Regions from separate parts of the Homo sapiens genome. Here region 2 is linked to region 1. Evidence: fine-mapped expression QTL. A gene starts in region 1. The other region holds a variant in brackets. All regions are shown on one strand. Distances are from middle to middle.

The links. PIP is the estimated chance that this variant, and not a neighbour inherited with it, causes the effect. A credible set is the group of variants that fine-mapping cannot tell apart.
Region 2: its variant is the best candidate, but not a certain one, in a credible set for the expression of GIMAP8 in unexposed skin (GTEx, PIP 0.78).

Annotation. Positions count from the first base shown.
Region 1 is chr7:150,447,800-150,453,173 of GRCh38, reverse strand. It overlaps GIMAP8 (GTPase, IMAP family member 8), which reads right to left and starts at 2,544. Exons shown (of 5, transcript NM_175571.4): 1 at 1,999-2,544. LINC00996 (long intergenic non-protein coding RNA 996) reads right to left here. Exons shown (of 4, transcript NR_034033.1): 4 at 5,034-5,374.
Region 2 is chr7:150,705,395-150,710,768 of GRCh38, reverse strand. No RefSeq gene overlaps it. Among named protein-coding and RNA genes, the nearest start is that of GIMAP1, 8.5 kb to the left of the region's middle. RefSeq lists an enhancer at 3,631-4,130. The variant T/C (reference allele first, on the strand shown) is at 3,221.

The DNA.
Region 1 (5,374 bases):
TTTTCTTCATAACATTGATTCTATCTGATATTATTTATATTTTATAATTATTTATTAATTTTATTTTTAAATGTCTAAATGTTCTCTGTACTACCCTTGGTACAAAGCTCCATAACAGCATGTGCTGAAACTCCAAACATGCCTGTTTTGTTCTGTGTCCCCAGGCCCTAACATTGTGCCTGGCATGTAGTATATGCCCAATACGTGGAGGTAAAGGAATGAACGATCACAGGAGAGACAGAAATGTGAAGAAAAGAAGAAAAACGGTTTTTAGAACTGAGAGGGAGGCCGGGCGCAGTGGCTCACGCCTGTAACCCCAACACTTTCAGAGGCCAAGGCAGGTAGATCCCTCGAGATCAGGAGTTTGAGACCAGCCTGGTCAACATGATGAAATCCCCGTCTTTATTAAAAGTACAAAAATTAGCCAGGCATGGTGGTGGGTGCCTGTAGTTCCACTCGCATGTATATATATATATATATATATATATATATATATATCTCACACACACACACACACACATATACACACATATATATACATATATACACATATATACATATATACATACATATATACATATATATACATATATACATACACACACACATATATATGCAAGTGAAGTGAGATGTCTCTGTAAATTAATTTAAGAAAAAAAGACACTAGTGAGAAAACAGCAAGCTGAAGGAAGCAGAGGCCTCCCACAGGTCTGAAGAAGAAAGAAATTTCTTTCCCAATTAAGCGACACAGCCTTGCATGGTTCCCCAGCAGAGTATGACCAAACCAATGAGTCTTGGCTGGACTCCTGCCTGCAGCTCCACATGATGTCAGGACCTACACACACACACCCACATACACACACGCACATGCACACTCCTACCACACATACAGCTTCCCAGCCAGTAGCACTTCACCCCAACATGTAGAAAGTGCACTTAAGGACAAAAAGGTACCCAAACTCACCCTCACTCACGCTCTGCCAGCCCACATTTCCCTCTGCTCAATTTCCCAGGCCACTCTGGAGACCCCAGCAGAGCAACTGAGAGAAAAAGAGAGCGTTCTTCCTATAATTCACTGAAGACTGTAAAGGCAGCCTCTGCCTCCTTCTCAGGAAACAGCCCAAGGCAAACGTGGACTCAGGCATCTGAGCACAGCATCCAGCCATGCGGGGATTCATCCCACATCTAATCGCAGTTCCCACTTACAGAGCAGGGTGGTTGGAGATGCCTCCAGAGCCCAGCGTGGGGAAGACCTTAGACCCAGCCCAGCAGGGCAACCATCAAGAGGAAGGGAAGAGGTTAACTGCTGAGGACCAGGTTGGCTGAAATGTAGGTGAAATCAGAAATATTGCTTTTGGTAAGGTCTTGACCCCTCCAATCCCTCCAATGCCCAGTTCACAGAATCCTAACTGTGCAAGGGGCAGGAAAGATCAGAAAAGCAGACGTGGAAAAATCAGCATCCCCCACCCCCTGCTTTGCGGGAGGAGCTCCGCTGGCTTCCTCCTGGGGGCTGCTCTGCGGCACCATCTAGCTTCATGGGGCATCTGACCGGCTGCTTCCGCCTGCTTCTTCCTCCCTTCTGCCAGTCTCAGCCCTCCTCCTCTTCAGGGCTCACACCCACTCCCCGACACGCCTTCTTTTAGGACAGCCACTCTCATAGATGTCTGGGAATATGCCTCTGTCCCCATCCTGCCGAATCTACTCCCCAGCAGGCTGGGGAGACACGCTTTGGACCAGGAGGAAAGCTTCCCAGGGCCCCTGCCATTCAACTCTGCCATTCAACCCTGCCATTCAACCCAGCCTCCTCTCCCATGGCTGAGCAGGCTGCCTTCCCGGTGCCAAGCCCATCCTCCCCCACAGCCATGCACCAGTGCACACACATCTACACACGAGTGCACATGTCACACATGCACTGCGGTCGTGTCCCATGGGGTCCCACGGCGTCCCACAGTCTCCGAGGCTCCGCAATCCACCTGGCTCTATCCCTCCATCTCTCACCTGGGTGGAAGCAGCTGCTGGTCCCCCAGGGCACAGGATGTGAGGAAGGTGAGGAGGGTGAGGGGAGAATGGCCGGAGAGCGACCCTCTTCCCAGGCCCTGGTCTTCCTGGCAGGAGGGTTTCGGGTGTTTCTGCAAAGGAAGAGATTTCTAGAAATAGCCTTCACATCCACAGAGGCATAAATGCAGTCGGAGAGGAAGTTCCCTGTGCAGGCCACAGGCTCAGAACCTCGAGAGCCGTCGGGGCTCAGGGAGGAGCCAGCATCGGGGACACACGCGCCTTCCCTGGGTGCTGAGCGCCTCGTGGGGTCACAACACAGCAGAAACTGAGGAGCCCGGCCCGTCCCGCAGCTGCAGACTGAGAGGAGGGAGGAGAAATGACAGCAGAGGCTTGGCCAGGGGCTGGGGCGCCGGGGCCGGTGCCAGGCTGAGCTTCAGAAGGGCTGCAAGAACAGGGGCTTGGATAGGGCAGGAAAAGGACGTCAAGCCAGTTCCTGTTCCTGAGAGGACAGAGATTGTGGCGCCGCTACAAGCTCTGAGCAAAGCCAGCTCCGGGCCTCTGTGTGCCCTTAAGTGGCCTTTAGGACTTCCTCTCACAAGTCCTTCCTCGCTTCCCTTCCCTTCCCTAAAACCCACAACCCGGGGAACTCCAAGCCTGACAGACCAACGCTGCTTCTCAGGGAATGAATGCTTTTCCCCAGCTTGCAAAACGTGAAATGCTAGACTTCGATGCTTTCAAATATTTCACAAAATGAAATCCCTTTTGTGAAAGAACATAGTGTCCAAACTACCTGGTCTCTACTTCATAAGGAAGTCAAACACGGAGGAAGACTTCTTAAAAAATGTTTACTAGGGTAAAAATGATGTAACATTAATAGTACCATCCTAACCATTTCTAAGTGTATAGCCCACAGTAGAAAGTACATTCACATGGTTGTGTGCCAGATCTGCAGGACTTTTCATCCTGCAGCACCCAAACTCTCCCCATTACACCCCAACTCACCTCCCCGAACCCCAGCCCGGGTAACCACCGTTCTACTTTCCGTTTCTATGATTTTTTTTTTTTTTTTGAGACAGAGTCTTGCTCTGTCGCCCAGGCTGGAGTGCAATGGTGTGATCTCGGCTCACTGCAACCTCCACCTCCCGAGTTCAAGCAATTCTCCTGCCCCAGCCTCCCGAGTAGCTGGGATTACAGGTTCCCGCCACCACACACGGCTAATATTTGTATTTTTAGTAGAAACGGGGTTTCACCATGTTGGCCAGGCTGGTCTTGAACTCCTGACCTCAAGTGATCCACCTGCCTCAGCCTCCCAAAGCGCTGGGATTACAGGTGTGAGCCACCACACCCGGCCTGTTTCTATGATTTTTGGCAACGTCAGATACTCATGTGAGTGGAGTCCCACAGTGTCTGCCCTCCTGAGACTGAGCAGAATGCCCTAGAGGTTCATCCAAGTGAGTGCGGGACCCTCTGCGCTCTGCACAGCAGGGCCCTCTTCACAGGATGCAGAGGCTAGGGCCTCGAGGGACTGGAGCTCAAGTTAGTTTTCCAAATGTCTGAGGTGGTGCTAAGCTTTCCAAAGGGACCCCGCAGAAGGAGGAGCAGTGGGGGTGGCTGAAGTAGAGGGGCATGCTTCAGATATGAAGTCTCTACAGTAGTCAAAACCACAGGCTTTGGGGAGCTGCTGTCAGCCTATCACATCCCGAGGGATCCACCCTCCCCCTGGACTGGTCTTCATGCGCCAGCCTTGAGGACTGCTCTACCTTGTTATGAACCTGAGGGAAACCCTGGTTATGCTGGGATGGCTCAAGAAGAGCTTTGGGGACACACAGGACACATCTTGATGGGGAAAGCTGACAAAGCCCTTCCCATGTCCCACTCTACCTGTCTCCTCATTGAAAGAGGATCTATTTTGGAAGAACCCCACCCTTCCTTTACAGTAGGTCAACGCACATAAAACCAACTCATTATAATGAAAAGACAAAAACCCGAAGCCAGGTACTGCAGTTCATCCCCGCTGGGGTACTAACAGAGGCAGAGGCTCAGCAAGAAACTGTTTCCCCAAAATAGAGAAGAAAAGGCTCACTCATTCTTAAATGAAATATTAAGCATCCAGGGATTGCTCTAAGTAAAACTGAAGCTGCAAATAACTCCTCAAAGATTCAGCAAGTCGATTATTTGCTGAGTTGACCATTTTGCAAAATGATCTTTCAGCAAATCAGCTCCTAGAGAATTGATTTCCGTGCAGAAGGCAGGCTGCCGGGTTCTGGTTTGGCACCGATCTGAGGCAGGATGGGGGCTCCCTGCCCCCTAGTGGCTTTGTGGCTAATGACAAGTGCAGCAAAATGCTCCCCAGCGGGCCGAGAGCCCTGACTCAGCAGGCAGGTGAAACACTGGGGAGAAGTTCTAGACTTCCAGAAATCGAATAAGCCAGGAAGACACATGTTATGCAAGCAAGGAGAAATCTACCAGGACCAAGCACCGTATTAGACACAGAGGGCACAAAGATTAGCAAGGCAAATACCTGACTCAAAGGGGCCCTAACTCAGTCTGAGGATGGGGAAGAGACTACGCTGTGGTCACGAAACGAGGTAATGTGCTGTGATAGAGATGCGTCCAGGCTGCCACGCAAGTGAGGAGGAGACGATGTAAACCCCGCAAGATGGAAAAACAACCAATTGGGGAAATAAACTTATAAACAAATCCGTAAACCCGCCATTTCCTGTGGCAGGTACTGACGGAGTGGTAGAGACGGAGTTTCACTATGTCCTGCCATGGAGAAGATTGTAAGGCACAGTGAAGGGAAGGCCGCGCGGGAAAGGTAATGCCTAAGTCTTGAAGGGCTGTAACATTTGCCTGTCAGATGACGGAGGGAGGACGCCTCAGGCAGACGGAGAATGGCAAACGCCACCGGCATCGGGGCCCTAAGACAGCCCAGCAGGTGCGAGAAAACGCAGTCAGGCTGGAGACAGAAGGACCGGTCAGAGGCTGCTGCAGCACCCAAGCTAGAAATGAGGAGAACTAACGCAGAGACAGCAGCAAGGGGAACAGATTTATTACAAATAGAAACAATAAGGCCGGGCCTGGTGGCTCATGCCTGTAATCCCAGCACTTCCTGGGAGGCCGAGGCCGGCGGCTCAACTGAGGTCAGGAATTCGAGACCACCCTGACCAACATGGTCAAACCCCGTCTCTACTAAAAATACAAAAAAATTAGCTGGGTGTGGTGGCACGTGCCTATAATCCCAGCTACTCAGGAGGCTGAGGCATGAGAATTGCTTGAACCCGGGAGGCGGAGGCTGCAGTGAGCCAAGATAGCGCCACTGCACTCCAGCCGGGGCAACACGAGTGAGACTGTCGCGGAAAAGAAAAGAAACAAT
Region 2 (5,374 bases), 260 kb before region 1:
TCCATATGACCTTTGAAGTAGTTTTTTCCAATTCTGTGAAGAAAGTCATTGGTAGCTTGATGGGGATGGCATTGAATCTGTAAATTACCTTGGGCAGTATGGCCATTTTCACGATATTGATTCTTCCTACCCATGAGCATGGAATGTTCTTCCATTTGTTTGTGTCCTCTTTTATTTCATTGAGCAGTGGTTTGTAGTTCTCCTTGAAGAGGTCCTTCACATCCCTTGTAAGTCGGATTCCTAGGTATTTTATTCTCTTGGAAGCAATTGTGAATGGGAGTTCACTCATGATTTGGCTCTCTGTTTGTCTGTTGTTGGTGTATAAGAATGCTTGTGATTTTTGTACATTGATTTTGTATCCTGAGACTTTGCTGAAGTTGCTTATCAGCTTAAGGAGATTTTGGGCTGAGACAATGGGGTTTTCTAGATATACAATCATGTCGTCTGCAAACAGGGACAATTTGACTTCCTCTTTTCCTAATTGAGTACCCTTTATTTCCTTCTCCTGCCTAATTGCCCTGGCCAGAACTTCCAACACTATGTTGAATAGGAGTGGTGAGAGAGGGCATCCCTGTCTTGTGCCAGTTTTCAAAGGGAATGCTTCCAGTTTTTGTCCATTCAGTATGATATTGGCTGTGGGTTTGTCATAGATAGCTCTTATTATTTTGAAATACGTCCCATCAATACGTAATTTATTGAGAGTTTTTAGCATGAAGGTTGTTGAATTTTGTCAAAGGCCTTTTCTGCATCTATTGAGATAACCATGTGGTTTTTGTCTTTGGTTCTGTTTATATGCTGGATTACATTTATTGATTTGCATATATTGAACCAGCCTTGCATCCCAGGGATGAAGCCCACTTGATCATGGTGGAGAAGGTTTTTGATGTGCTGCTGGATTCGGTTTGCCAGTATTTTATTGAGGATTTTTGCATCAAAGTTCATCGAGGATATTGGTCTAAAATTCTCTTTTTTGGTTGTGTCTCTGCCCGGCTTTGGTATCAGGATGATGCTGGCCTCATAAAATGAGTTAGGGAGGATTCCCTCTTTTTCTGTTGATTGGAATAGTTTCAGAAGGAATGGTACCAGTTCCTCCTTGTACCTCTGGTAGAATTCAGCTGTGAATCCATCTGGTCCTGGACTCTTTTTGGTTGGTAAGCTATTGATTATTGCCACAATTTCAGAGCCTGCTATTGGTCTATTCAGAGATTCAACTTCTTCCTGGTTTAGTCTTGGGAGAGTGTATGTGTTGAGGAATTTATCCATTTCTTCTAGATTTTCTAGTTTATTTGCGTAGAGGTGTTTGTAGTATTCTCTGATGGTAGTTTGTGTTTCTGTGGAATCAGTGGTGATATCCCCTTTATCATTTTTTATTGCGTCTATTTGATTCTTCTCTCTTTTTTTATTAGTCTTGATAGCGGTTTATCAATTTTGTTGATCCTTTCAAAAAACCAGCTCCTGGATTCATTAATTTTTTGAAGAGTTTTTTGTGTCTCTATTTCCTTCAGTTCCACTCTGATTTTAGTTATTTCTTGCCTTCTGCTAGCTTTTGAATGTGTTTGCTCTTGCTTCTCTAGTTCTTTTAATTGTGATGTTAGGGTGTCAATTTTGGATCTTTCCTGCTTTCTCTTGTGGGCATTTAGTGCTATAAATTTCCCTCTACACACTGCTTTGAATGCGTCCCAGAGATTCTGGTATGTTGTGTCTTTGTTCTCGTTGGTTTCAAAGAATATCTTTATTTCTGCCTTCATTTCGTTATGTACCCAGTAGTCATTCAGGATCAGGTTGTTCAGTTTCCATGTATTTGAGCAGTTTTGAATGAGATTCTTAATCCTGAGTTCTAGTTTGATTGCACTGTGGTCTGAGAGATAGTTTGTTATAATTTCTGTTCTTTTACATTTGCTGAGGAGAGCTTTACTTCCAAGTATGTGGTCAATTTTGGAATAGGTGTGGTGTGGTGCTGAAAAAAATGTATATTTTGTTGATTTGGGGTGGAGTGTTCTGTAGATGTCTATTAGGTCTGCTTGGTGCAGAGCTGAGTTCAATTCCTGGGTATCCTTGTTGACTTTCTGTCTCATTGAATTGTCTAATGTTGACAGTGGGGTGTTAAAATCTCCCACTATTAATGTGTTGGAGTCTAAGTCTCTTTGTAGGTCACTCAGGAGTTGCTTTATGAATCTGGGTGCTCCTGCATTTGGTGCATATATATTTAGGATAGTTAGCTCTTCTTGTTGAATTGATCCCTTTACCATTATATAATGGCCTTCTTTGTCTCTTTTGATCTTTGTTGGTTTAAAGTCTGTTTTATCAGAGACTAGGATTGCAACCCCTGCCTTTTTTTGTTTTCCGTTTGCTTGGTAGATCTTCCTCCATCCTTTTATTTTGAGCCTATGTGTGTCTCTGCACGTGAGATGGGTTTCCTGAATACAGCACACTGATGGGTCTTGACTCTTTATCCAATTTGCCAGTCTGTGTCTTTTAATTGGAGAATTTAGTCCATTTTCATTTATAGTTAATATTGTTATGTGTGAATTTGATCCTGTCATTATGATGTTAGCTGGTTATTTTGCTCGTTAGTTCATGCAGTTTCTTCCTAGTCTCGATGGTCTTTACATTTTGGCATGAGTTTGCAGTGGCTGGTACCGGTTGTTCCTTTCCATGTCTAGTGCTTCCTTCAGGAGCTCTTTTAGGGCAGGCCTGGTGGTGACAAAATTCGTCAGCATTTGCTTGTCTGTAAAGTATTTTATTTCTCCTTCACTTATGAAGCTTATTTTGGCTGGATATGAAATTCTGGGTTGAAAATTCTTTTCTTTAAGAATGTTGAATATTGGCCCCCACTCTCTTCTGGCTTGTAGAGTTTTTGCTGAGAGATCTGCTGTTAGTCTGATGGGCTTCCCTTTGAGGGTAACCCGACCTTTCTCTCTGGCTGCCCTTAACATTTTTTCCTTCATTTCAACTTTGGTGAATCTGACAATTATGTGTCTTGGAGTTGCTCTTCTCGAGGAGTATCTTTGTGGCGTTCTCTGTATTTCCTGAATCTGAATGTTGGCCTGCCTTGCTAGATTGGGGAAGTTCTCCTGGATAATATCCTGCAGAGTGTTTTCCAACTTGGTTCCATTCTCCCCGTCACTTTCAGGTACACCAATCAGATGTAGATTTGGTCTTTTCACATAGTCCTATATTTCTTGGAGGCTTTGCTCATTTCTTTTTATTCTTTTTTTCT[T/C]TAAACTTCCCTTCTCGCTTCATTTCATTCATTTCATCTTCCATTGCTGACACCCTTTCTTCCAGTTGATCGCATTGGCTCCTGAGGCTTCTGCATTCTTCACGTAGTTCTCGAGCCTTGGTTTTCAGCTCCATCAGCTCCTTTAAGCACTTCTCTGTGTGGGTTATTCTAGTTATACATTCTTCTAAACTTTTTTCAAAGTTTTCAACTTCTCTGCCTTCGGTTTGAATGTCCTCCGGTAGCTCAGAGTAATGTGATCGTCTGAAGCCTTCTTCTCTCAGCTCGTCAAAGTCATTCTCTGTCCAGCTTTGTTCCATTGCTGGTGAGGAACTGCGTTCCTTTGGAGGAGGAGAGGTGCTCTGCTTTTTAGAGTTTCCAGTTTTTCTGCTCTGTTTTTTCCCTATCTTTGTGGTTTTATCTACTTTTGGTCTTTGATGATGGTGATGTACAGATGGGTTTTTGGTGTGGATGTCCTTTCTGTTTGTTAGTTTTCCTTCTAACAGACAGGACCCTTAGCTGCAGGTCTGTTGGAGTACCCGGCCATGTGAGGTGTCAGTCTGCCCCTGCTGGGGGGTGCCTCCCAGTTAGGCTGCTCGGGGGTCAGGGGTCAGGGACCCAGTTGAGGAGGCAGTCTGCCAGTTCTCAGATCTCCAGCTGCATGCTGGGAGAACCACTGCTCTCTTCAAAGCTGTCAGACAGGGACATTTAAGTCTGCAGAGGTTACTGCTGTCTTTTTGTTTGTCTGTGCCCTGCCCCCAGAGGTAGAGCCTACAGAGGCAGGCAGGCCTCCTAGAGCTGTGGTGGGCTCCACCCAGTTGGAGCTTCCTGGCTGCTTTGTTTACCTAAGCAAGCCTGGGCAATGGCGGGCGCCCCTTCCCCAGCGTTGCTGCCACCTTGCAGTTTGATCTCAGTCTGCTGTGCTAGCAATCAGCGAGACTCCATGGGCATAGGACCCTCCGAGCCATGCGCGGGATATAATCTCCTGGTGCGCTGTTTTTTAAGCCTGTTGGAAAAGCACAGTATTTGGGTGGGAGTGACCTGATTTTCCAGGTGCCGTCTGTCACCCCTTTCTTTGACTAGGAAAGGGAACTCCCTGACCCCTTGCACTTCCTGAGTGAGGCAATGCCTCGCCCTGCTTTGGCTCACGCATGGTGCATGCACCCACTGACCTGCACCCACTGTCTGGCACTCCCTAGTGAGATGAACCCGGTACCTCAGATGGAAATGCAGAAATCACCCATCTTCTGCGTCGCTCACACTGGGAGCTGTAGACCAGAGCTGTTCCTATTCAGCCATCTTGGCTCCTCCCCACCTTTCCTGACTTTTTAATGTTTGCCATTCTAACTGGCGTGAGATGGTATCTCATTGTGGTTTTGATTTGCATTTCTCTAATGACCAGTGATGATGAGCTTTTTTGCATATGTTTGCGACTGCATAAATGTCTTTTTTTGAAAAGTGTCTGTTCATATACTTTGCCCACTTTTTGATGGGGTTGTTTGTTTTTTTCTTGTAAATTTATCTAAGTTCTTTGTAGATTCTGGATATTAGCCCTTTGTCAGATGGATAGATTGCAAAATTTTTCTCCCATTCTGTAGGTTGTCTGTTCACTCTGAAAATAGTTTCTTTTGCTATGCAGACACTGTTTAGTTTAATTAGATCCCATTTGTCAATTTTAGCTTTTGTTGCCATTGCTTTTGGTGTTTTAGTCATGAAGTCTTTGCCCATGCCTATGTCCTGAATGATATTGCCTAGGTTTTATTCTAGGGTTTTTATGGTTTTAGGTCTTAGGTTTAAGTCTTTAATCCATCTTGAGTTAATTTTTGTATAAGGTGTAAGGAAGTGGTCCAATTTCAGTTTTCTGCATATGGCTAGTCAGTTTTCCCATCACCATTTATTAAATAGGGAATCCTTTCCCCATTTCTTGTTTTTGTCAGGGTTGTCAAAGATCAGATAGTTGTAGATGTGTGGTGTTATTTCTGAGGCCTCTGTTCTGTTCCACTGGTCTATTTATCTGTTTTGGTACGAGTACCATGCTGTTTTGGTTACTGTAGCCTTGTAGTATAGTTTGAAGTCGGGTAGCATGATGCCTCCAGTTTGTTCTTTTTGCTTAGTGTGAAAATGGCCATACTGCCCAAAGTAATTTATAGATTCAAT